Homo sapiens: one gene and its partners. The protein of the gene in region 3 purifies or fractionates together with the protein of the main gene of each other region. This does not show direct contact. Each region holds a gene or a part of one and is shown on either strand. Other genes may lie near its edges. The genes, in order: AP3S1, TMOD3, DUSP19, GAPVD1, GTPBP1, RHEB and MCM6.

Evidence for each region.
Region 1: the proteins of DUSP19 (region 3) and AP3S1 purify together in Homo sapiens (affinity purification with mass spectrometry, with the first as the bait; one large-scale study listed by BioGRID). This does not show direct contact.
Region 2: the proteins of DUSP19 (region 3) and TMOD3 purify together in Homo sapiens (affinity purification with mass spectrometry, with the first as the bait; one large-scale study listed by BioGRID). This does not show direct contact.
Region 4: the proteins of DUSP19 (region 3) and GAPVD1 purify together in Homo sapiens (affinity purification with mass spectrometry, with the first as the bait; one large-scale study listed by BioGRID). This does not show direct contact.
Region 5: the proteins of DUSP19 (region 3) and GTPBP1 purify together in Homo sapiens (affinity purification with mass spectrometry; one large-scale study listed by BioGRID and IntAct). This does not show direct contact.
Region 6: the proteins of DUSP19 (region 3) and RHEB purify together in Homo sapiens (affinity purification with mass spectrometry, with the first as the bait; one large-scale study listed by BioGRID). This does not show direct contact.
Region 7: the proteins of DUSP19 (region 3) and MCM6 purify together in Homo sapiens (affinity purification with mass spectrometry, with the first as the bait; one large-scale study listed by BioGRID). This does not show direct contact.

The regions. Positions count from the first base shown.
Region 1 is NC_000005.10:115,911,258-115,914,581, reverse strand, and holds the end of AP3S1 (AP-3 complex subunit sigma-1), read right to left. Parts: intron 2,494-3,324; coding exon of another isoform or gene 2,446-2,493; exon of another isoform or gene 1,227-2,445; intron 1,221-1,226; coding exon 1,092-1,220; 3' UTR 501-1,091; downstream 1-500. UniProt on the Homo sapiens protein: Part of the AP-3 complex, an adaptor-related complex which is not clathrin-associated. The complex is associated with the Golgi region as well as more peripheral structures.
Region 2 is NC_000015.10:51,899,153-51,902,652, reverse strand, and holds part of TMOD3 (tropomodulin-3), read right to left. Parts: intron 2,499-3,500; coding exon 2,355-2,498; intron 762-2,354; coding exon 617-761; intron 1-616. UniProt on the Homo sapiens protein: Blocks the elongation and depolymerization of the actin filaments at the pointed end. The Tmod/TM complex contributes to the formation of the short actin protofilament, which in turn defines the geometry of the membrane skeleton.
Region 3 is NC_000002.12:183,088,747-183,092,246, reverse strand, and holds part of DUSP19 (dual specificity protein phosphatase 19), read right to left. Parts: intron 1-3,500.
Region 4 is NC_000009.12:125,365,267-125,367,707, reverse strand, and holds the end of GAPVD1 (GTPase-activating protein and VPS9 domain-containing protein 1), read right to left. Parts: 3' UTR 501-2,441; downstream 1-500. UniProt on the Homo sapiens protein: Acts both as a GTPase-activating protein (GAP) and a guanine nucleotide exchange factor (GEF), and participates in various processes such as endocytosis, insulin receptor internalization or LC2A4/GLUT4 trafficking.
Region 5 is NC_000022.11:38,704,574-38,708,743, reverse strand, and holds the start of GTPBP1 (GTP-binding protein 1), read right to left. Parts: upstream 2,801-4,170; 5' UTR 2,789-2,800; coding exon 2,597-2,788; intron 1-2,596. UniProt on the Homo sapiens protein: Promotes degradation of target mRNA species. Plays a role in the regulation of circadian mRNA stability. Binds GTP and has GTPase activity.
Region 6 is NC_000007.14:151,492,396-151,495,895, forward strand, and holds part of RHEB (GTP-binding protein Rheb), read right to left. Parts: intron 1-3,500. UniProt on the Homo sapiens protein: Small GTPase that acts as an allosteric activator of the canonical mTORC1 complex, an evolutionarily conserved central nutrient sensor that stimulates anabolic reactions and macromolecule biosynthesis to promote cellular biomass generation and growth.
Region 7 is NC_000002.12:135,869,944-135,873,443, forward strand, and holds part of MCM6 (DNA replication licensing factor MCM6), read right to left. Parts: intron 2,901-3,500; coding exon 2,754-2,900; intron 419-2,753; coding exon 308-418; intron 1-307. UniProt on the Homo sapiens protein: Acts as a component of the MCM2-7 complex (MCM complex) which is the replicative helicase essential for 'once per cell cycle' DNA replication initiation and elongation in eukaryotic cells.

The DNA of each region.
Region 1 (3,324 bases), on a different chromosome or scaffold from region 3:
TATGGAAGTATTTCAAAGAGAATATTTGAGGAAGGAGAACTAGAACTGTAAGGAAAACCTTAGTCTAACTGGAAAAGTAACCTCACTCACAGTTCATGGAAGACCAAATAAAATGTGGGCCAATTATAAGAAACTAGAATATGTGAGTGTTAGGACTTAAGAAAACATTAGTTTAACTTTGTTTTAGGATGAAACAGACAAGTAGAGTCCCAAGGGTTTTTGTATTCAAAATCAATTAGGTATTGGCTGAAATTATTTTTTACCATCTGGGCAAGAAGGAACAAGAGGCAAGGCTTAAAGCTATTTGTATAAAAAAGATTTTACATTTTCTCAATATACATTTTAGAAAGACTGTCGCCCCCCCACTCCAGATCTCATCTTGCGCAATATGCCTAAGATACACTGCTCTTGATTTGTGAAATAATTGAGTTTCCGAATAATTTACTGAGTTTCTGAATATTAAAAATATGAGTAAAAAATAAATCGACATTAACATCTGCTTAATAGTGATAAAATATACTTTTATTTACTTTGTTGAGTCAGAGGGTTGTAAAAAAAATTATTGCTAAAGTAGATATCAGGCAAACAGAAAGGTGCTTTAGAAGTCCAGTTACCTTGGAGTTTATTTAAACTAAGAGAAAAAAGTCATAATGTTTTCATGCAATACATACTTGGTTCTCCAAATAACAACTGTGTGACATATAGCAGAAGGAATTAAGGAATGCTGCACTTGTGATCCATACAAAACACCAACATTTTAGGTTGTACATAATTAGAGAAATATCTGAAACACTTTTTAAAACACTGTAGTAGCCAATACATAGAGGCATGCCGTAGGTGGGCACAGGAATGCAGTTTAGAAAAGAAAAAAAAAAATCACATAGGAACTACTCAATTTCTTTAAAATCACTGAGCAAGAACAGCAACATTGAACTTTCATACTGATTTTACACAACTTCTATACAGTACCTTGACTTAAATCCAAGAGCAAAAGTTAAGACTCTCCTCCTCTATTTTTGGTAAACAACTGCATGGTAAACTTAGATGACTCTTCCCCCTGGATTTTACCTGGGAGTGGCCTTTTTACATTTTTATTTAAAAGAGGGCAGGTTTGGCACTTTTATACTGATGTCACCAATGTTAATATTTCTTGGGATCTCAGGAAGATTCATATTCTTTACAGCTGATACAGCACGGGCTGGAGCTCCTGCTAAGCCAGCCTGTATACAGAAGCAAATAAAAGAAAAAGAAAATGTACAACTCAGGTGTAGCTCATCATAAAACACTTACAATGGAAGACAATGATAAAAGATTTTCATATAACAAGCTTAGGGACCAGATGGTAGTTTGAATTGGTATGGAATGGTTACTTTGAAATACTAATCTATAAAGAGAAAACAGTGACACATTAAAAAATACAGTGAACACATGCAATGATAACAATGTAAAGATTTAAATACAAATTAATGTGCACTACCACACAATATTCACATGATAAAACCTAAATCTTCACCTATATCTTGATTTAACTGACAGATAGCATGAAGCATGATTTACATTAGTTTCCTTATTAAATATCTCTTGCAACGATTGTGATAGATTTTCTTTTGCTTTTAAAATGGCATTTATTAGCAATATGTGCTGTGAAATAAAAATTGCAAGTAATAGATTGTGCTTGTTTAATTTCTTAGGGATAAACCCTTAAAACATTTTAAAACAATAAAATTAGTTTTTTAAATTGTGAGGGCTCTTTTAAACTTTTCTAATAAAGTTCTAGAACATTAAAAAAATAGGCTTTCAAGTAAAGCCTCAATCCAAAGAATATAGTTCTGCCTAAAGATGAAACTACACGAAGAGGATCATTCCAACCCTTTGATGCATTAGTAAAAATATAACGATTAAAAATGTTTTGTCATATAGCATAGATTCAGCAACATATATTCAGCTTACAGTTTACAAATTTAGAGAAAGAAAAGCATAAATGCAAGAGGTAGTAAATATAAATAAATGAATTCTAAAATTTCCAGTAAGTACCACTAGTGCATAATATTTGGCTTTCCTATTAGTAGGAACATTTGTAATTTGTGAAATAATTTTAAAAGAAAATATGCTTACAAATAAAAGAAAATGCATACATATCATTTTTCTCACCTACGTTAACAGCCTTCATATTTGAGGTTTAATTTATATACCAATTACATTTCATTACTTTTTATTCAGGCTATATAATAAAGCAAAGTCAACAAAGACATCTGAGTTCAGTGGCATCATTTTGTACAAAAATAGACAACAAAAACGAATCTTCCACTTTGATTAGATTATATATGGCAATGTCCATAAAATTAGAAACACTAGCTTTAAGGTCCCTTTTCATAATTTTAGTTTTCTTTTCTTATGTAATCCTACCTTTGTTAATTAAAATAAAAATAATAATAAAGCTGTTACCTGAGAAAAATCTTGACTGATACAAAATAGGCCAGTGTAAACTATTTGCTAAATAAAGGATACAAACATTGTTAAGCAATGAAATAAAAGCCATGGATTATCAATTCAGAATTGGAAATAATAGAAAAATTAGTAGAATAGTATTAATAATAAGTATATTCTACACAGGCAATGATAAGAGTGATACAAATGAATAACTCCATACCCAATTAAATAGTGAATAGGGCTGGAGAAGTTTTATAATTTAATGGATGTTAGTTATTTTTGATGTACAACTAAAAATGTGATTGACCTCTATACTTATACCTACCTGAAGCAATGAAGTTTTTGTTACCCCCCCTTCCTTCCTGCTCCCCCAAAGATGTTGGAGATACAACTAAATAATAATTAAGGCAGCATGTATAATATTTGAAAGGGTCTTTAATTTGATCGTTTCAAGTTAAAGGTCTAGCTACCAAAATTTAGAGTGGGTTGGGATCAAAGAAGAATCCAATTCAAAGAGGTTTACCATCTTTTGGCTTTCTTTTACCAGGAAGTATGTTGTCTACTAAGGAAGAAAAATTTACAAAATTGCAGACGTCCTGGAGGTAGTATCATTTTTTAGATAGGAGGATTTTGTAATTTTTCTAGTTAAAAGACCAATTTGCCACTATTTTTACTTAGGAATTTCCATAAAGAAGACAAATAATGAACTGACTATAGAAAAGTATTGACAAAATATTTGAGTATAAATATTTTAAAGGTGTGAATTATTAAGGGATTTTATTATTGTGAGAGAAATTGTGCGTGTGTGTGTGTGTGTTTATCTGTGTATTTTATTGGACACTATGGTTTACACTTATAAATAGTAAACATAATGTTTTCAGTATTAAATGTACA
Region 2 (3,500 bases), on a different chromosome or scaffold from region 3:
AAAAAAAATACAAAAATTAGCTGGGCACGGCGCGCACGCCTGTAGTCCCAGCTACTCGGGAGGCTGAGGGAGGAGAATCACTTGAACCTGGGAGGCGGAGGTTGCAGTGTGCCGAGATGGCGCCACTGCACTCCTGCCTCGCAACACAGCGAGGCTCCGTCTCAAAAAAAATCAACAACAAAAAACCTGGGTGAGAAATATAATTATTCTCTATTTTATATATTTCTATATCCACATTCTATCATATAAAATTGAATTTCTATCTGGGTCCGCTTGATTAAAAGGGCAAAAAACTTTCCGATAATGTTGAAATCTTTGTTTCAATAGTTCCAAGGACTGATCTGTAACTGAGAACAAATTGTTTGTTGTAGAAAACTGGTCACTTAAAACTATGAAATACGCTTGTCACAGGAAGCTGATTTTACCCATTGACCCAATCATCACAACCTCACTTTAATTGAACTTGAATTCAATCAGTATATAAAGGACCATGCAGATTTTAGAAACAAAGGCCAAATAACTTCTCTGTTAGAATTTATTCTTAAGAGGGAAAGAAGTTCCCCCAATACGTTAGCTTGTGATAGAACTCAGAAACTTGATCGATACTATGTCTTACCTAAGTCATTGTTTTTTGTTATAGCATTAGCTGCTCTGGTTCGTGGTCCCTGCTGTGTAAACTGATATCCAAATTTAAGGATATTTGTATTTTCCTCAAGCATCTTGGCCATTTCCAATTCTACAGCTGTCCCCAACTGCTGCCTCTGGAGTAATTAGAAAAAAAGAACAATATTAATAAACTAGATCAAAATACTTTTCAAGGTAAATTAAGACATTCAGGCACATGCTAATTCTTTGATCTCTTTAAATGTTCCCAATTCCTACAACATATACATAGTTCAGTAGTTCCAAGTACTGATTTGTAACTGAGAACAAATTGTTTGTTGTAGAAAACTGGTCACTTAAAGCTATGAAATGTTTGTCACAGGAAGGGGATTTTACCCATTGACCCAATCATCACCACAGCCTCACTGGAACTTTATACACACACACACACACACACACACACACACACACACACACTAAACTTTTTAAAGTTCAGTAATATGATCATATAGACATCAAAAAAGTGTGAATTACTATAATGACATATCACTTCATACCCACTAGGATAAGTATAATAAAAAAGATAGATAATAACAAGTGTTGGCAAGAATGTGGAAAAATGGGGACATTGCTGAGAGGAATGTAAAATGGTACAGCTACTGTGGAAAACTGGCTGCTGCTCAAAAAGTTAAACATAGAGTTACCATGTGACCCAGCAATACACTCCTAGCTATATACTGAAGAGAAATGAAAATCTATGTCCATGTTAGAGTTTGTAATGAATGTTCACAGCAGCATTATTTCTAGTGGCCCGTATGTGGACACACCCCAAATGGAATAGAATATTATTCAGTCATAAAAGAATGAGGTCCTGATGTATGCTACAATACAGATGAACCTCCAGAACATTATGCCAGGTGAAAGAAGCCAGGCACAAAAAGATCAAATATTGTTTGATTCCACAGATATAAGCTGTCCAGAATAGGCAAATCCTAAGAAACAGAAAGTGGATGAGTGATTGCCAGAGCCTGGTGAGAGGGGTGAATGGGGAGTGACTGCTAATGGGTATGGGGTTTCTTTTTGGGGTAATGAAAATGTTCTGGAATTAGTGGTAATGGCTGCAAAACTCTACAAATATACTAAAAACCATTTAGCTGTATACTTTAAGAAAATGAATTTTACTGTATGTAATTATATCTCAATAAAAAAATGAAAAACATGGATTATGAAGCACTGGGTTAAATTTTAAGACATAATCCTCTTTTCCACCTTCATAGTTTACAAAATGTATTTACTTTGAAGGACTGAAGGAGACATTTAACAAATATTTTTTCAAATAAATGGAGTTATTTTTTCAAATAAAAAAATTAATAGCTACTCTGGATGGAAACATTTCTAACATGTATCTCTCTGCCTTTTACAAAAACCCTACAATGTGGACCTTGCCAGCACAGAGCTGAAAAATTGGAAGGTGGACTAGGTCACATGTAAGAGTCCTCTCAGTTCAAACTAGATAGCCATCTAAATTCTCTTAAAATGATCTAGGGAGAGTATACACCTTTACATTGTATACACTGTTATATACACTGAGTTAATATTCTAGATACCCCAAATGTCAGCTCTCCTTTCAGCCCAGCATCTTCCAACAGGGATCCCTGACAGCCCGCCTCCCATCCCCATCCTGAGTCGCCAAGCCCTACACAGCAGCGTGGGCTGTAGCTTCCTCGACGTTATTATTGTAGAACATTGACCTGATTGTCAATCTTGAGCTCTGCCAGGGTTTCATTATCTCTTAACGCATCAATCAGTGCCAGAATCCCAACTCCCGTGATAAAGTTGGACTCCACATTTAAGCTCTTCAAAGTTTTGTTCACTTTCAGCATTTCTGCAAAAGCCTAGAAATTAGAGAAAATATTAAGAGATTAAAATTTGATACAGTACCTACTACATATTGTACATGCCATAAATAAATACATTAATTAACTGCCTTAATGTTTGTCATTAGTTGTTTCAGTTTGACACAGTAGCCCATAGCTCTCACATGTACAGTTGTCCCTCAGTATTTGTTGGGGGTTGGTTCCAGGACCATCTGCAGATACCAAAATCTTCAGATGCTCAAGTGCCTTATAGAAAATGGCATAGTATTTGCATATAACCTTCACACATGCTCCTGTATACTTTTCATTACCTCTAGGTTACTTAATATACCTAATACAATGCCTACACATCACTTCATTTTTGTGGATTCAACATAGTACCTGGCATACAGCAAATTCAGATTTTGCTTTTGGAAATTCATAGAATTTTTTTCCAAATATTTTTGATCTGAAGTTGGTTGAACCCATGGATGACTGTATCTACTTTTCTTTCTTTTTTTTTTTTTTGAGACAGGGTCTTGCCCTGTCACCCAGGCTGGAGTGCAGTGGCAGGATCACAGCTCACTGCAACCTCTGCCTCCTGGGCTCAATTGATCTTCCCACCTCAGCTTCCTGAGTAGCTGAGACTACAGTTGTGTGCCACCATGCCCGGCTAATTTTTGTATTTTTTGTAGAGATGGGGTTTCACCATGTTGCCCAGGCTGGTCTCAAACTCCTGGGCTCAAGCAATCCACCCACCTCGGCTTCCCCAAGTGCTGGGATTACAGGTGTGAGCCACTACACCTGGCCTGTACCTATTTTTCATATGTACCCAGTCATAATCTTTTGATTTTTTGGTCACATGTAATTCCCCGTTGGTGACATTCTCTACTCCTCATTCCCTACTTCATGCTTCTTTCTTCTGTCTCTCTCACTCTTTCAGTTTCTGTGTTAGACCAACTTCATCAATGTCGCTGTAACATCTTTTCTTATTTGGGTCTTGCTGTAGCTGGATCATGTGAAGCCAAAATGAGGGTAAAT
Region 3 (3,500 bases):
TAAAAAAACCTTGGGTATAATGTGATAGTCTGCAAGTGCTTGACAGCCACCTATGATGAAATAAGAATTTTGCAGTGGAATGAAAATCAATTGTCACTAAAAATATACTCCTTAGTTCAGCGTTTGGGTGGGGTGGGGGAGTAGCCAAAATCTCTCAAAGAACTAAGCAATGTCTTGGTTTATATTCAGGCACAACCTTCTTATCCTGCAGAGGTCTGGTAGCAAACTGGACAACACTTTGAGGAGCACAGGTCAGAACAGTCCACTCATGACTATCCACAGTAGTAGAGGGGAATGTAAATATGACAAATACAAAAAAGTGATGGGTAGACTGCTTTGAAACAAAATGGAAGAAGTAAAGCAAGAGAATAGGGTCTGGTGGCAGGGAACCTAAGGCTGTTTTACTCCGATTTCCCAGAACTAAATTCAAAGGAAAACCCTAACTTTCCACACCTAAGTAACAAAAGCACCGGGGGCTACTGCCTTTGCAAACCCCTCACCTTTTCTGCATGCAGATGGGAAATTTGCTGTCCACAACCAATCAGACTAATTGCAGGCCAAGTCTTCGTTTGCATAGAAGTATAACTTTGTAACTTCACCCTAGCCTCTCACTGGTTGCTTTTTGCAACCAATCAGATGTTTGCACAGGAGCGTGACCTTTGTAACTTCACTTCAGCCTCTGGTTGGCTGCTTTCTCCAACCAATCAGACTGACTGCAGGATACCACTTCATTTACATAAGGTGAGCATGAAGTGGCCATTGGGAAACTTCTAGTGGGTATTTGGACCCAAGAAGATTCTGTATCCTGTCCCTTGGGCCGCTGCTTGGACCTGCTCCGACACTGTGGAGTGTGCTTTCACTTTCAATAAATCCCTGCTTTTGCTCTTTTGTTGCTTCATTCTTTCTTTGCTTTGATGGGCGTTTTGTCCAATTATTTGTTCAAAATGCCAAGAACCTGGACAACTTGCAGTCATGACCCTCTACTTGTAACAGAAGCATCTAAAAACTTCGTGAATTTAGGTACTTATTTAGACCCATAATGTCTCTCTAATGAACTTTTACTTCTATTGAACAAAAAACTACAAACAGCTTACATGTCTCATAGCAGGAAATAAGATAAATTATAGAATCACCAACTACCAGAATACTGTGCAAAAATTTTAAATGATTTGAATCATCAAGTATAAAAAGCAGGCTATACAGAGGGGACTAGGGCCAGAGACAGGACCAGGAAGGAACTGAGGACCAAGAAGTGCAAATATCAGTACCCAGGACCAAAGTGGCCGCCCAGAGTTCCCGATCTCACATGTGATAGCACCCCGTCAGCCCTCCCCTCCTGAGCAGGGATCCAAGAATGTGCCAAGAGGCCTGCTGGCCTCAGCCGGGTGGGCCTGTACATAGGGTCCATGTGCAATAGGGAGGGAAGTCTTCTATTTTTTGCTGCCCCCTCCCAGCCCGCTGTCTGGGACAGGGGGAGAAGGTATTTTCAAGATAAAGCACAGGTACCACAAATAAAGTCATGAAGTTGCCCTCCCAAAAAAAAGGCAGGCTATAAAAGAATATAAACTGTATGATACTATTTTTATAAAAATACATATATAGGTCTAGAAAAATATATCAAAATGCTAACAATGCTTATATCTAAGTGTGGAAGTGTCTTAATTTTCATCTGCATTTTCCATTTTTTCTACAAAGAACATGGACTACTTACGTCATGTTTTTAAAATCACATCTTATAAACAATGAACATGAAATATCAAATACACATTGTTATACTTTGTACCTTTTGTACATAAAAAGAGGGGACAAATAAATTTAGTTCCTAAAAGGACTCTTTGGGCTATAGAAGTTACCATTACTGTTCTTCTCAGGTGTATTTCTGTCCCTTTAGGCATAAAGGAAGGACAGAGAAGCCAAATAGAGTTTTGCAAGTACAGAGGGAAATGAGTAAAGACTTAGGAAATGGAATCCATTCCATTTGGCAACGGTATGCAAAAAGATGAAAACAACAAACTATAGCCTAGAAAGGTAGTTTTGAAACATGTAATTCACTGAGTAATTAGATTTAACAATACTTGAATATAAAATAGACAAAGGCATGAAGAGATCTTTTCTTAAAAAAAATGAAAAAAATTCAAGAATTTTTATTGCTAAAACTAAATATATATTAGCCTTCCAGGCATGGTGGCTCATGCCTATAATCCCAGCACTTTGGGAGGCTGAGGCAGGTGGATCACTTGACGTCAGGCATTTGAGACCATCCTGGCCAACATGGCAAAACCCCGTCTCTATTAAAAATACAAAAATTAGCCAGGCATGGTGGTGCGCACCTGTAATCCCAGCTACTAGGAAGGCTGAAGCAGGAGAATCACTTGAGTGCAGGAGGTGGAGTTGCAGTGAGCTGAGATTGTGTCATGGCACTGAGTTTTCAGGGCAGGGAAATATTGGCTGAGGTTAGGATTCCAGTATAAAACACAAGGCTTGAGAGGGTAGAACATATTTCTGAAATCTAATTCATCTTATCAGAAACATTTTCTGCAGCTCCTCAGATTCCTGTGGTGCCGCCATCTCACAGACCCTCTCAGCATGCTCCACCTCGGCTACCACCTCCATGGCTGACTGCTCTCCCCTGCTTTCACTTTTGCCTGTCAAAGAAGGAGCTCTTCTTCCATGGTGTCCACAGTATAGACAGGCGTACTCTGAGTTCTGGATTTTCTAATTCTCAACTTGGTTGAAAAGTTGTATTACTGGGTGTTAGATTTGGCTTCGAGGTGGCTGCTGAAAGAGTGGAATGTTATAACCTAGAATTGTGGGGTTGGTTATATCCCCACTGGCAAACTTTGACCAATGGGAAACAGGAGCTGACAGGAAGCCAGGCAGATAAATCCTCCCTTCCAGGCTGGGTTGAGGTGCAGTTTCTTTGTACTGCCTGTCCAGAGGTATTTTGGGTGGTAGAGTAGCTGTACCTGCTGAATAGCCAACAGTCAGCTCACTGTGAAATGAGCCCAGCAGGGTAAACGCATCACTTTGTATTGCTTCTCGTCCCACCTTGAATCACTTTCCTTTCTTGCCACTCTCACTGCCTAGAGATTGTACCTCTCAAATTAAGCATAAGCTCTAAATCCTCATCTCAGGCTTTATTTTTAGGAAACCCAAGCTAAAATCCACTCTAATTTACTGGCCCAAATTAAGGCAAACTTTATTTTTTAAATTTATTTAAAATTCCAAGCTTATTAGAATATTCAATCTCTTGCTTTTCTTTCTAGATATGATTAACCTCTCTAATTTTTACTTGCAACATTTACATCTCTTCTAATGTTAATATGAATATGGATGATATCTATACTTTGCCATCTCTGGCATATTCTACATCTCCTTAGAGAAGGAGCCAATACAGAAACATCCTTTTTATTTTTAAAACTATTAACTCACACACTGGAATGTTACAATCCAGAGCCTGTAAATTTTTTAACAAGAAAACAGAATGGCCAATATTAGGC
Region 4 (2,441 bases), on a different chromosome or scaffold from region 3:
TTAAATCCATAGATGAAGGTCTGGGTGCAGTGGCTCACGCCTGTAATCCCAGCACTTTGGGAGGTTGAGGCGGGCAGATCGCTTGAGCTCAGGAGACTGGGCAACATGGCAAAACCCTGCCTCTACAAACAATACAAATATTAGTCAGGTGTGGTAGCGTATGCCTGTTGTCCCAGCTACTGGGAAGGCTGAGGCTGGAGGATCTTTGAGAACAGGAGGCAGAGTTTGCAGTGACCCTAGATCCTGCCTCTGCACTCCAGCCTGGGCGACAGAGCCAGGCCCTGTCTCAAAAAAAAAAAAAAAAAAACCCTTAGATGTTCACCATTGTGTTAGTTACTGCCAGGTCATTCTAGTTCCTTCTTGTGCCATACTTAGCAAACACCCTTATTGTTCAGATAAAAAAGATGTGTGTGAATTCACGGAGAACATCAGAACATTCGGAAGTCAAATACGTTTTCAGAAATGCTTCTGAATATAAAATAGATGACAGAAACATAAAACCCTGTGAATCAAACTGCTCTCCCCTTTTAATCAGTTTTATAGAATATTTTACAGTACTAATCACATTAGGAGACAGGAGGGGTTTCCTGTACATATACAAGATTGTGCAAGCTCATTAATTGAGACTTATAGAAAGGTTTTATCTGTTTCAAAAGAGGCAGTACAGCTTTTTAATCCAGGTGAAGCACAAGAAGAATCCAGTAGACAGGAGAGTATTAATTTGACAGAGGTGAATTCCCCTAGTGCATGGCCGCTACCCACACTGTCTGCCATTATCCAAGTGGAGACGTCATCTCTCTTGAATTGAACCCTTGCTGAGCTCAGGCCTGTGGGATGCGGCAGCTCCAGGGTCACTCCATAGCTCAACCACAACTTAACACGGAAGCAAACTATATTTTCATTTATCCAAGTGTTCTCAAGAGTAATAAAGCTATTCCTTGTCCTACTACTTTCTAACCTACATTCTAAAATATATTAAGTAATTTTTAACCTGGCAAAGTTCTCAAGCATTTTGGCATTTAAAGTAATCGCAAATACCTCATCACTGTTAATCCACTTACTAAAAATCCTTTGGGCTTCAAGATAGTTTCAGATTTACTTCCCTTAAAATTAAAGCAATTGCGTACAAAATAAACTCACTAGACTTAAATATTTAAAAAGAGAGACAACAGCCTTTTCTTTAAAGAAACAAAGCAGGAAGAGATGGGAGAGAAAAATCTAGGAAGCACCAATTGAGGAAGTGAACCCCACTACACTTCTATCACTTTTATGCAATCCAGTAATAATTCTGAGTGTATTCCTACTTTCCCTCTTCACACCCAATCACATAGGAGAAAAACAATTTTAAAACACCTAGTTGACCTTACTCGGTCCAAAGTGGAAATTTCCATGGCAAACAATAGGAAAAAGAGTGCCCGGGTTCAGCACACCAGTCAGCTACAGATTCTTACGGCAAGAACACAGCCCCCGTATTGGGGCTGAGATTGTTCTCTTGCTCACGCACCTCAGGGACACATTTGTAAAGCCCACTTTAAACAAAGGCTTCCAGGACATAGGAATAGAAAAACCATGCAGCACATTTGCAATCCCTTAGAAAACCTGAGCCTCCTACTACAGCGATTTAACTATCTGTATCAGAAGGCCTTCATAAGCAGGTTTTTATAAAGAAAAAGCAGAAGAAAGCAATTACTGTGGCTGAGATTTTACCTAAAATGGAGAAAGAAAGCAAAATGTTTGACACGTTTAAATATATATACATATAATTTTGTGGTTGGGCACGGTGGCTCACGCCTATAATCCCAGCACTTTGGGAAGCCGAGGTAGGCGGATCACTTGAGGCCAGGAGTTCGAGACCAGCCTGGCCAACATGGCGAAACCCTGTCTCTACAAAAAATACAAAAATTAGCTGGGTGTGGTGGCATACACTTGTAATCTGAGCAACCAGGGAGGCTGAGCCATGAGAATCACTAGAGACTGGGAGATGGTGGTTACAGTGAGCCGAGATCACAGCACTGCACTCCAGACTGGGTGACAGAGCAAGACTATGTCTCAAAAAAAATTAAAATATAATTTTGTAAGTAAAGACAATCTTCAACTTGTATTTCTATTACTTCTAAAAGCAGAATATTAATACAAAATGCAAACCTGATTTTTCTTTTCCTCAGAGAAGTTAATCCTACAAGATTTCAGGGGACCTGAGCCAACTCTCTCTCCATTTAACATCCACTTTATAAATTCTATGTAGTAACTAGTGGCTGCTGAATGTTTCCTGGGCTGATTTTGTACTTTTACACTAATCTTTCATGTAAAGAAAGTACTGGAAGGCAGTGGAGGAAGAAACATTTGGGGAACAACTATTCCTCTTTTCTATTAAAAAAAAAAAAAAAAATCAAATCACTCCCCATCTCACATACCTGTCAAGAAATCAAACAGTGATGGTT
Region 5 (4,170 bases), on a different chromosome or scaffold from region 3:
AGCACCCTCATCTAAAAAGGCTGCACAGCCCCTTCATGCCCTCTCTGCTTCTCCTGAAGTAGCCTTTGAGCCTCAGGCCTTATATGAGCCAAATAATATACTACAATGTGTATGTCTGAGCCATAACCCATGGTAAAGAGGGCACAAGCAGCCTGCCTCCTGCTGCTTAACAGGAAGGGCAGGACCCAAGTGACTGAGAATATGGCACTGTGGATAGAAAGCGCAGTGCTTTCCATCTACATGCCAAAGTCTTCTACCTGCAGTTGGCATCTGGAAGCCCACAAGACATATACCTCATATACCTCCATGCCCTCCACCCACAGGCCAGTGGCTTCCAGGATAACAAAAGAATTCTGTTCTATCTTGTCTTAGCTATATTGAATATTTGGGAATGAAAACTGCCTGCAAGACTCATCTTCATCAACAAAGCACCATCACCATTACCACTACGAGGAGTATTAGCACCGTCATTTTGCAAATGTCTGCCAATAACATTGAAGTGTCAACCATTTACTTGGGTAAGCCATTTGGCAATCAGACCCCATTCTCTAACCACTCCTGTGTGACCTTGGACAAAGAATTTAACCACTCTGAGTTTCAGTTTTTCAATCTATAAAACGGAGCTAATACTACCTGCATCCTAAGGCCACTGTAAAGAGCAAATATAATAACATGTAAAGCATCTAGTCCACAGCTCAATAAATGTGAAACTACAAGGTTTTCTTCACCCAATCATTCCCAGAAAAACCTTGTTGGATGAAACTAGCCACCACTATTCACTAAGTGTTTCTCCCTTTGGAAGCTCTCGGAGCCTTAGGTCTCCACATTTTCTATCGTAAGGACATGAACCTTTCGCTTCTAATCTGTTCCTCCGGAATCAATCTATTCAACCCAACCCTTCTCTCCCTCCACACCATCACTTTTTCTTTTTGATATCATCGATATTAATATACATATGATTTTTTTTAATTGTAAGGAGGACTTCCCCAGCTATGTGATGAAATAACACTTCTAGGAATATTAAATGAGCTGGTCAAGAAATGAAGGTACTACCGTCTTTGCAACTCTGCCCTGCAATTTCCTATCATGTTTCTTCAGCACCTTGACCATGTGTTGACATCCAGTTTGTTTGCTCTTGAGTCAGGTCCATAATCTTGTAACTTCCTGAGTTGACTCATCAGAGCTTGTAATTGTAACCTGGATGTTTCCTGGGTCTTTTACATCGTCCTGGCCATCCCTCTCTCTAAGTTTGGCCATCCTCATTATGGCCTTACAGGCACAAGACAGGACCAACTTTGACAGGCTAGCTGGCTTCCAAGTGCTCACCTGAGACTACAATGGCAAAGAGCAGTTGAAAATAACTTGCTTAGGTTGCAGGGAAAGTTCCTCCCCAGTTTAGGACCAAGTTTCATGCAAATTTGCCGCCATAAACTATAAAAAGTCACAAACATTTTCAAAGCTGGATAAAATGTCTATCGTAACTATCCTACAAATGTAAGTGGTGGTATTGGTGTTCTATCTTTCACCCACTGCTATTTAATCTGCACAGGAAATTAGGAACTATCTCGTTCACTTCAAACATTTACTGAGTCTCTAGTATGCATCAGGCACTATTAGGTGTCTTCTTAAATATTTCTAATTTTTACAACCCATCTGTACTTTCTTAAGATGAGGTGGTTGGAGAACTGAAAGGTTAAGAAACTTTCCCAACGTCACAGAGCCTTTCGATGGTAGGGCAGGAAAGGGAACCCAGCCCTGTCTGACTCCCAAGTTGGCATTCTTTCCCTAAGGAACGTTAAGCACCTTCAAAACACCAGTCACATCTTGTATTTACTTTTCTATTCTTCACAATGTCAAGCCGTTGGCGAGGCCTTAATTCCTGCCTACCTTCTCGACAGCTCAAAAAACACGGTTTTAAACGTCCTTCACTGCTCCACTCATACAAGATGAGCTTCCACTCACAGGATAGCGAGACTAAGGAGCCTGACCATCTTTCCATTTTGTTTCGGGTGGCCTCGAAAAGTAGACATTCTCGGACATGCTCCTCCCCAGCTGAGCGACTACTTTCTGTTTCCTTTCCCGAGTCTGGGAAGAGACGCGGCGGCCACCCTGCCCTGGCCTCCGACTACCTGTCTTCATGAGCGTCTCGGCCCCCTGCCCGGGCCCCCTCGCCCCTCTGCTGTCCCGCGCGGTCCAGGGAGAGGAGACTCTCGGTCTCCGAATCCCCTCAAGTGGGGACCCGAAGAACGGGGAGGGGCACTGAGCGGGGACAGGGAACGCGCGGAGCGCAGCTGGCATCGGGCGCCCCCGTTCCACGTGGCAGAGCCGAGGGGTTACGATCTCGGCGGGAGACGGGAGGGCGGGAGGCTGGGTTGGCGACGCGGGGGAGCCAAGGTGGGTGCGGGGACCATGGGGACGGCCCCTCGCGCCGCGAACCCCCGCACGTCCCGGAGACTAGCAGGTGGGCGGGCTCGGCCCCTTCTTCCCGTTCCGCGCTCCCCGCGGACAGGGCGGCCGCTGGCCCCGCCGTCGCCCGGGAGACTGCTCGGCCAGCCGCCCGCTCCCCTCAGCGCCCGCCGCCGCCGCCCGGGCCTACCTTGCTGGTGAGGTCCAGCTCTGGCTCGCCGTTGAGCGCCTCGCCGTCCTCGCTGCAGTCCGAGTCAAAGCCGCCGTGGAGTCGGGCGGCGGCCGCCGCGGCCCTGGCCGCCCCCGGGGAGCTGGGCTCGGGGGCGAACATAGAGGCCGGGACCGGCGAGTCCATCGCGGAGCGACTGCGCTCCGTCGCCATCTTTAATAACTTAGGCTAATTCGTAGCCGGCTTCCCTCCCTCCCAGGCTCATTTGACTAATCTATGCACAGAGCCCCGCCCCGCTCCTTATCGGAATAATTTATGCAAAACTCCAGCCGCGTACTGGGTGACACGTACCTCTAGCTAAGAAACAGTCGACTAGGCCTCTCAGCCACCAATCCCTGCAGAGCTTTCAAGTACCTAATGAATAATTAATGAGGCCCAAATCCCAACAACAAATGTCTGAGACGTCACGCGCCCTGCTCCCAGCTTGGGAGGGGGCAGTACCGAGTCCCCGCTACCCGCCTGAAGCCTTCCCGCCAACGGAAGCAGAGAAGTGTCTGACTGACACAGCAGCCATCCAATGAGGAGAGAAATACAAACAACGTTACTCGTCAACGCCCCTTCACTCTCCTTGTTTCCAGAGGCGGTACTAAGCCTGCAAATCTTACTGCAAAACAGTAGGCGCTGTAAGCCTTCCGATGACGGACAAGGGCAGGACCCAATCGAGTCATAGAACAGGTCCCGCGCCTGGACCTGCTCATGGAGATAGTAAACTGCAAAATGAGCCTCCCACTCGATTCAGTGACTGAGGCAGTTGCTGGAACGCCGATGTCCAACGTGCTGGCATGCTCCAGGCAACTTTAATAGTAGGATCGATGCTGTAAGTTCCAAGAGTTGTAATACTATAGCAGCCAGAGTGAGGCAATAATTAAATGCTGACCTTAGGGAGAATTCTCCATTCACTGCCTTTGCGGAGGCAATCACACGAACTAAAAACAGAGGCAAGCAGCTAAAATTAAAAGCCAAAAAACACCTCACCACTTTTGTGGTGAACTGCTAAACCGAAATCTAGGGTCTCATAAGGTAGTTTCCTATGGATTATTTTTCCAGTGTCATCAGTTGTGAAAAGCCCCAACCCAAAATGCCATCAACACACGTTTTAGTGTCTTGAATTCCTGTTTCAAAAGCCGGAAAAGCCTAGGCCGTCATTGTTTGGCGAAATTAGGGATTAACCAACGTCTATGAATGTCGGCCTTGGCCACTCGAACCAGGCATCAAGCAAACAAGAGCATGTTTGAGAAGATAAGGAATCCAAGACTTAGGGTTTGGACCTAAACCCTAAATCTTTAGTGAGCAAGTGGCAGGATTGAAAATGGCTTTCAGTTTTGGGGATCTACCTGAGAAGAAAGAGACAGTCTCTTCTTGTCCCTGTTTTCCACTACTATCAAGTCTTATTTGCACAAACACAGCTGGGAATCTTGGACAGGAAGTCATCTGATTCCAATGGTCTTGATACTGTTCTTATGTGCTTTTTAATTTCTTCCTTGCCAAATTGCTCACCTCCATCCTATATGGGCCGGGAGCAATGGCTCACACTT
Region 6 (3,500 bases), on a different chromosome or scaffold from region 3:
CCTGAGGTCTGGAGTTCGAGACCAGCCTGGCCAACATGGTTGGTCCTGTCTCTACTAAAAATACAAAAAAAGTTACCCAAGCGTGGTGATGGGCACCTGCGATCCCAGCTACTCAGGAGGCTGAGGCAGGAGGATAGTTTGAACCCAGGAGGCGGAGGTTGCAGTGAGCTGAGATGGCGCCACTGCACTCCACTCTGGGCAACAGAGTGAGACTCTGTCTTATAAAAAAAAAAAAAGAAAAAAAGTAGGGGTTGCTGAGAAGGAAAGGCCACAAGTTGGTAGACCTATTTACTCCTTATCCGCAGCCCAATACAGTTCAAAATGTCTCTAGAATTACTAATACCTGAAATTATTCTCTACAAAGCAACCTACATGAGCATTTGAAAATTAAACGCTACTTCTCTGCTTCCAATCCTCATTGCAATTAGAATAAATTCTCAACATTTTTTTTTTTTTTTTTTGAGACGGAGTCTTGCTGTGTCACCCAGGCTGGAGTGCAGTGGTGCAATCTTGGCTCACTGCAACCTCTGCCTCCCGGGTTGAGGCGATTCTCCTGCCTCAGCCCTCCTGAGTAGCTGGGATTACAGGCACGCGCCACCACACCTGACTAATTTTTTTTGTATTTTTAGTAGAGACAGGGTTTCACCACATTGGTCAGGCTGGTCTCGAACTCCTGACCTCATGATCCACCCGCCTCGGCCTCCCAAAGTGCTGGGATGACAGGCGTGAGCCACCGCGCCTGCCCTAAATTCCCAGCTTCTAACCGTGGCCCACAAACACCAGGCCATCCCTGCTCTGGTTACCACTCTGACCTCATCCGCCAACAGCCCCCGACAACCCATCCTGAGGCTCCAGTCACATCCCTTCTGCTCCTGGAGTTCCTGCCTGCCTTGGCCCCTTTACTCTAGCAACCCCCACTGCCCCCATCTCTGAATATATGACTCATCTTTGTCATTCTGATCTGAGCTCAAATGTTAGTTTCACAGAGAAACCTTCAAGACCACCCTAAGGTAGTACCCATTCCTTAAAAGTCATTCTCATAGCTACTGTTTTATTAAGTTATTTGGAATGATATTCATTTAGTGAACACTCCACTGAAGCCAGCACAGGGCCAGCCGACACATTGTAAACATTGAGATTTCTGAACAAATGAACGAAATTAAAGCGTAGATCTCCAAAGGTCACTCTTAGCCATTTAGATACTACAAAAGATCTCAATTTTATACAAATGAAATACAAAACACAGTTCAACAGAAATTAAGAAACAATTCAATTAGTATTTATTGGTACCTAATCACAGGCTTGCCTGTGATATAGGAATACAATAGTTTAAGAATTCCACAAATTTAAAATGAATTGTGTTGAAAAGAAACCATGTTATATATGCTAGCCTGTAAAGGAGAATTTAACTCAAAATACAGCAGAACTACTTCAGGTAACAAAAATAGCAAGAAGAAAACTCCTCTCATGTTATTGAAACTGAAAAATTAGAAGGAGTAAAAAAAAAACAAACTGTTATTTACACTGAATGCTACTGCTTAAAGAAATGAAATTTAATTAGAAAGAAAGAAGGGAACAAACTTCTTAAGGGCTTTTGCAAGGTACTTCTAAGGACTCCAGTGGGCTTTTTATACCCTTATGTGGGTAGGATAAGGGTTTGTGGGGTTTTTGTTTTGCTTACAAATGGAAAGAAAGGAAAGAAAGCGATCATTTTCTCCCTAAAGATATGGGCAAGAGTTACAAAGAAAAAAGGAAATAATATAATTAAAAAGATTTTTGCAACATTTTGTGTAGTAGAACTGGACTAAAAATAGTGAAAGAGGGGCTAAGTATGATACATGGGATAAGCTCCCCAAGCACTGGGCAACCAGGAACCCCTGGATCAGACAGTCCTCTGAACTGGCACTGGCCAAGTCTCGACAACCTGACTTGCGGGAGTGAAGGGACGGGGGAAAAGAGCCTCAGGAGTTTCCCGTGAAATTCAGGAAGCCACATTTGAACAGAAAAGAAAGTTACACACATTAAACAAGACAGCATGAGATCAAGTGCAAAAACGGAGTGAGAGAAGAGCTCCTTATTTGTATCACAATGGGCATACACTATTTGACAGGCTAAATTAACATTTCACTTGAAAACATAAGTAATCATTCCGGTAACAGACAATGTAGTCTAACCAAAATCACATCGCAGGTTGACAGCCAACTGTTGTTTTCATGAATAGTAAACTGGGATACCAGAATTTAAAACGTATTCCTCCAGGGTGGAAACTGGATTTTCAATCAGACTGGCCCTAGGAGAAAGGTACTGTTCATTAGCAGAAGTGGCACTGGAGAAAAACTACGTTTCCCTTGGGTCTCTCCTCCCTGGGGCTCTCCCGCCAAGGTGAGGTCATTAATTATTTAACTAATCCAGAAGGGATAGGAAGGCTATATTTGCTAACATGCTGTTTTTTGCCATTTCCATTAAAAAGTGCTATTATTAACTAGTGTTGAAATCTTGACAAGTCAGCATTAAATGCTAATGAATCTTCATAAATAAACCCCACCGCTCATTTTCAAGTGTTCTCAGTTCCAGTTGTAATTTCTGGCTTTAAGGAGTGTCTTCTGGAGACGTAGTTCAGATCTTTTGGTTAGGTTTTTCTAGTTTGTTTGCAACCACAAAAAGGCATTGGTGATCTCTACTGTGATCACCTTTAACCTTTTTCTCTCAATAACTTCATATATTTACTTTGGCTTTTGTCCTTAGCAAATTCAGGTCTGGAAACACTGTTACTCGCTTGCTGAAGATAATCTCACACTCCAGATCAACTCTTTGGAAAAATGTTACATGAAAACTACACAGGAGTGATCCCAAATAAATGGAAAAGTAGCCCATACTCAGATGTGTGTTTATCCTCAAACACAAATCACTCATTTAATGACATAAATTACTATAAATGGTTTAAAAGGCAGTATCTCAATTCCTACAATTAACTGTCAAATACTCTTCCTCCAAACCAAAACCCACCTTAACTTTTAAAAATAAAAATTATTTTAAAAAATTCTTCTGAGCTTTTATCAGGGAACAGCATTGTATTATTTTTTCCAATGATAAAATGGCACAGTGAGTTTCTCAGCTGGTATTTTCACTACAGAAGGTGTACTTTCAGGGGTGTTGACTCAATCTTATACCTCATGATTACTGCAAAATAGGCACTGTTTACAGAATTATTTTAAGTTTTCAGATTAATATTGACTTTGTTATCATGCTTATTCTCCTAAAAAATAACTTATTAGCCCGGTGTGGTGGCTCATGCCTGTAATCCCAGCACTCTGGGAGGCTGAGGCCGGTGGATTGCTTGACCCCAGGAGTTTGAGACCAGCCTGGACAACGTGATAAAACCCTATCTCTACAAAAAAAATATAAAAATTAGCTGAGTGTGGTGATGTGTGCATATAGTCTCAGTTACTCAAGAAGCTGATGTAGGAGGATCGCTTGAGCCGAAGGGTTGAGGCTGCAGT
Region 7 (3,500 bases), about 47 Mb from region 3:
TTTTTCCTCCTGGTATTTTACAGCATCAATTTTATAAGTACTTGTTTTATAATTATTGTGATTATCAATTATGAAAAAGTAATTTTACAGCAACAAACCTATTTTTTGCATGATTTAGGTAGAAAACCTAAGCCAAAAGACTTCACAGACAAGGAAACTGAGGCTCAGGGAGGTAAAAGTGATTTGTATAATGTTAAATAGCCAGCTAATAGCAGATCAAGGCAACCTCTCAAGTTTTCTGACTGTCAGCTAAGTGGTACTTATACCATTTGGTGAATTCCTTTTTTTCCAGAGAAGGGTTTCTTACTTGTGTCTGGTAGGCAGGTCTTGGAATGCAACATAAAAATCCTTGGCAAGAGGGATCTCTTTACGGTCTTTGACGAATGTTTTCAAGGCCCGACACAGGTAAGGGTAAACTCTGAAAAACAAAAAAGTCAGCTGATACCTTAGAGGTTTACCAAGGCCTCCTTCCCTTTACATACCTACCAACAGCCGAGATTAAGGAATTTCATCTGGTTACAACTAAACCTTAGAACTTAACTGTGTAGGACACTTCTATTATCTACTCTAGGTTTAGGACCCTCTTTCAGTTCTCTCCTATCCCACCGGAACACTAAATATAAAATGTCATACCATACCTGATTATCATATAGCACATAAATAATCATACAGCACCCACACTGTTGGCCATTCCTCTGTCCAAGATGACTAGCTGAACAATCATCTTGTCAATATTATGCTCAATACTGTGAATTTTCTGTGGGCTGTTTATGACTTAGTAAGTCATGTGTCAAGTCAGTCAATTTCTTTGGTTTCATTCTGAGACAAGGTCTCACTCTGTCACCCAGACTGGAGTGCAGTGGCACGATCACAGCTCACTGCAGCCTCAATCTACCTAGGCTCAGGTGATCCTCCCATCTCAGCTTGCTGAGTAGCTGGCACTACAGGCATGCACCACCATGCCCAGCTAATTTTTGTGGGGTTTTTTTTGTAGAAATGGGATTTCACCATGTTGTCCAGGCTGGTCTCAAACTCCTGGGCTCAAGTGATCTATCCACCTCAGCCTCCCAAAGTGTTAGGATTACAGGTGTGAGCCACCACATCTGGCTGGTTTGATAAGAAATGGATGAGGACAGGAGAAGTATTTGTGCACTAATGTGAGAACAAATTGGCAAAAATGCTCCATTTGACTGGTGAGAGTGAAGTATGCATGTCCTTTTGATATGTTTCTAATACCTACTCCAGCTTAGTTTGTTTAAGAAGTGGGGTCTGAAACCCTCTAAAAAAGGCGCTACTCTCAGGAAAGAGAACTGCTGCCTGGCTTGTGCATGAGGCATGGCACAGCTGCTTCTACCACCAGGCTTGATTGTCTACCTCTCCCTTATTTGTCAGTGCTATAACTTCTACTGCTGCATGCTTTCACAATAAATCCTGTTGCTTACTTACCCCCTCCAATTATTCTTGATCATCAGCTATGACCAGAAACACAGACAAATCCTCCATCTCCTAATCTACTAAGAAATGAACGAGACTGTGCCTCCTTATCCCTGGGTTTTCATTTATCTTTCACAACTGTCCACAATTTATTTTAACCTGATTCTATTTCTATAGACTGTCACATTTATTTAATCCTAATACAAAGTCTTGTGTGCAAAGATGTTTCTTGCTATATATAACAAGTCAAAACAAAATAAAAGCCTTCTATTAAATATAATGTCTAACCATAGTATTTCTACCAAAAAACCACAATTGGAGCTATTAGTATGAGTTTAAGAAATTTTATATGAATTTGAGTAATTTCATACACAGCATACACACAAAGACATCAAAATGTGACAGAAGATCCTTACAAAACTCTGCACTTGCAGACTTGGAAGGCTCCTGGAACTCTGTTGTAGCAGATCTGCTAATGACGGTGGTGGATTACAAGTGTATAAGCAATTTAATTCTCCTTACTCTTCTCCATTTTCTACAATATATACCTATTACTTTTATAAGCGAAAACAAAATTAAACTTTAAGGGAACAAGAAGTACAACAACGTCAATGCTGTAAAGATATCCCCAGTACAAGAAAAGGACCCACACAAACACCTATTCCTGTGGGGAAAAAGGATCAATGGAATGACACAAAAGTAAGTAAGTACAGTTTTCCTCTTGGGAAAACTATATAGAAAGCAAAGATTTTCAACATTTGTATTTGAAAAAAAAAGTTCAGCTCTGGCCGGGCACGGTGGCTCACGCCTGTAATCCCAGCATTTTGGGAGGCCGAGGCGGGCGGATCACCTGAGATCAGGAGTTCGAGACCAGCCTGACCAACATGGTGACACCCCGTCTCTATTAAAAAATGTAAATAATTAGCCGGGCGTGATGGTGGGCGCCTGTAATCCCAGCTATTCGGGAGGCTGACGCAGAAGAATCGCTTGAACCCGGGAGGCAGAGGTTGCAGTGAGCCAAGATCGCGCCACTGCATTTCGGCCTAGGTGTGACAGAGCAAGACTCCGTCTCAAAAAACAAACAAACAAACAAACAAACAAAACACAACAACAAAAAAACGTTCGGCTCTACAAAGGCCTACATGAAGTTCAGAGCAGTACTAAAACGACCACTGGCAGTATCAAAGCGCCTCTTCTCAGTGGGAAATAACTGTGAAAGCTGACCTTCTGCTACACAAGTGAACACTTACAGTCCAAGAAGAGCTGGCTTCCCGGATTTCAACCCCTATTCAAAGTAAAGAAGATTAATATGCCCATACCTATAGAACTCCTCTTGAATGGTGGTGGAAAGTTGCTGGTTAAATTGTTCCAGGTCCACAAAACTCACAACCAATGTGTTTCTCTCAGGACGAATCAGTTCCTCTGCTAATTGCAAGTATTTAATTTCTCCATCGCTGCTCTGAAACCTGCAGGTACATTCGAGTCAACTAGATTAAGGACACAGGCAGTACAAAGAACCTGAATGATAATTCAGAACATTGGTTAAAGTCCAACAACTAGGCTCAGACAGGCCCATGTTTGGCAGTTCTGTAACTTGGGGCAAGTTACTCCTCCCTTCTGATATGGTTTGGCTGTGTCCCCACCCAAATCTCGACTTGAATTTCCACATGTTGTGGGAGGCACCTGGTGGGAGTTAATTGAAGCATGGGGACAAGTCTTTCCCCTGCTGTTCTCTGATAGTAAGTCTCACGAGATCTGATGGTTTTAAAAAGAGGAGTTCCTCTGCACAAGCTCTCTTTGCCTGATGCCATCCACGTAAGACATCAGTGACTTGCTCCTCCTTGCCTTCCACCATGATTGTGAGGTTTAACTGCTAACTAACAAAAAAACCCAACAACTAACTCTTCTTTTACTACTGTCATGTATAATTAAGATTGGAAAATGTTAAATCAAGAAATTCAGTCTCAAACCCAATGATTCCATTTCTGTAGGGAATTTGCAAACTAACAAATTAGTCAGGGATTTAAGAAGCAGAACAGAAATAAGAATACATGGAAATGAGGTGT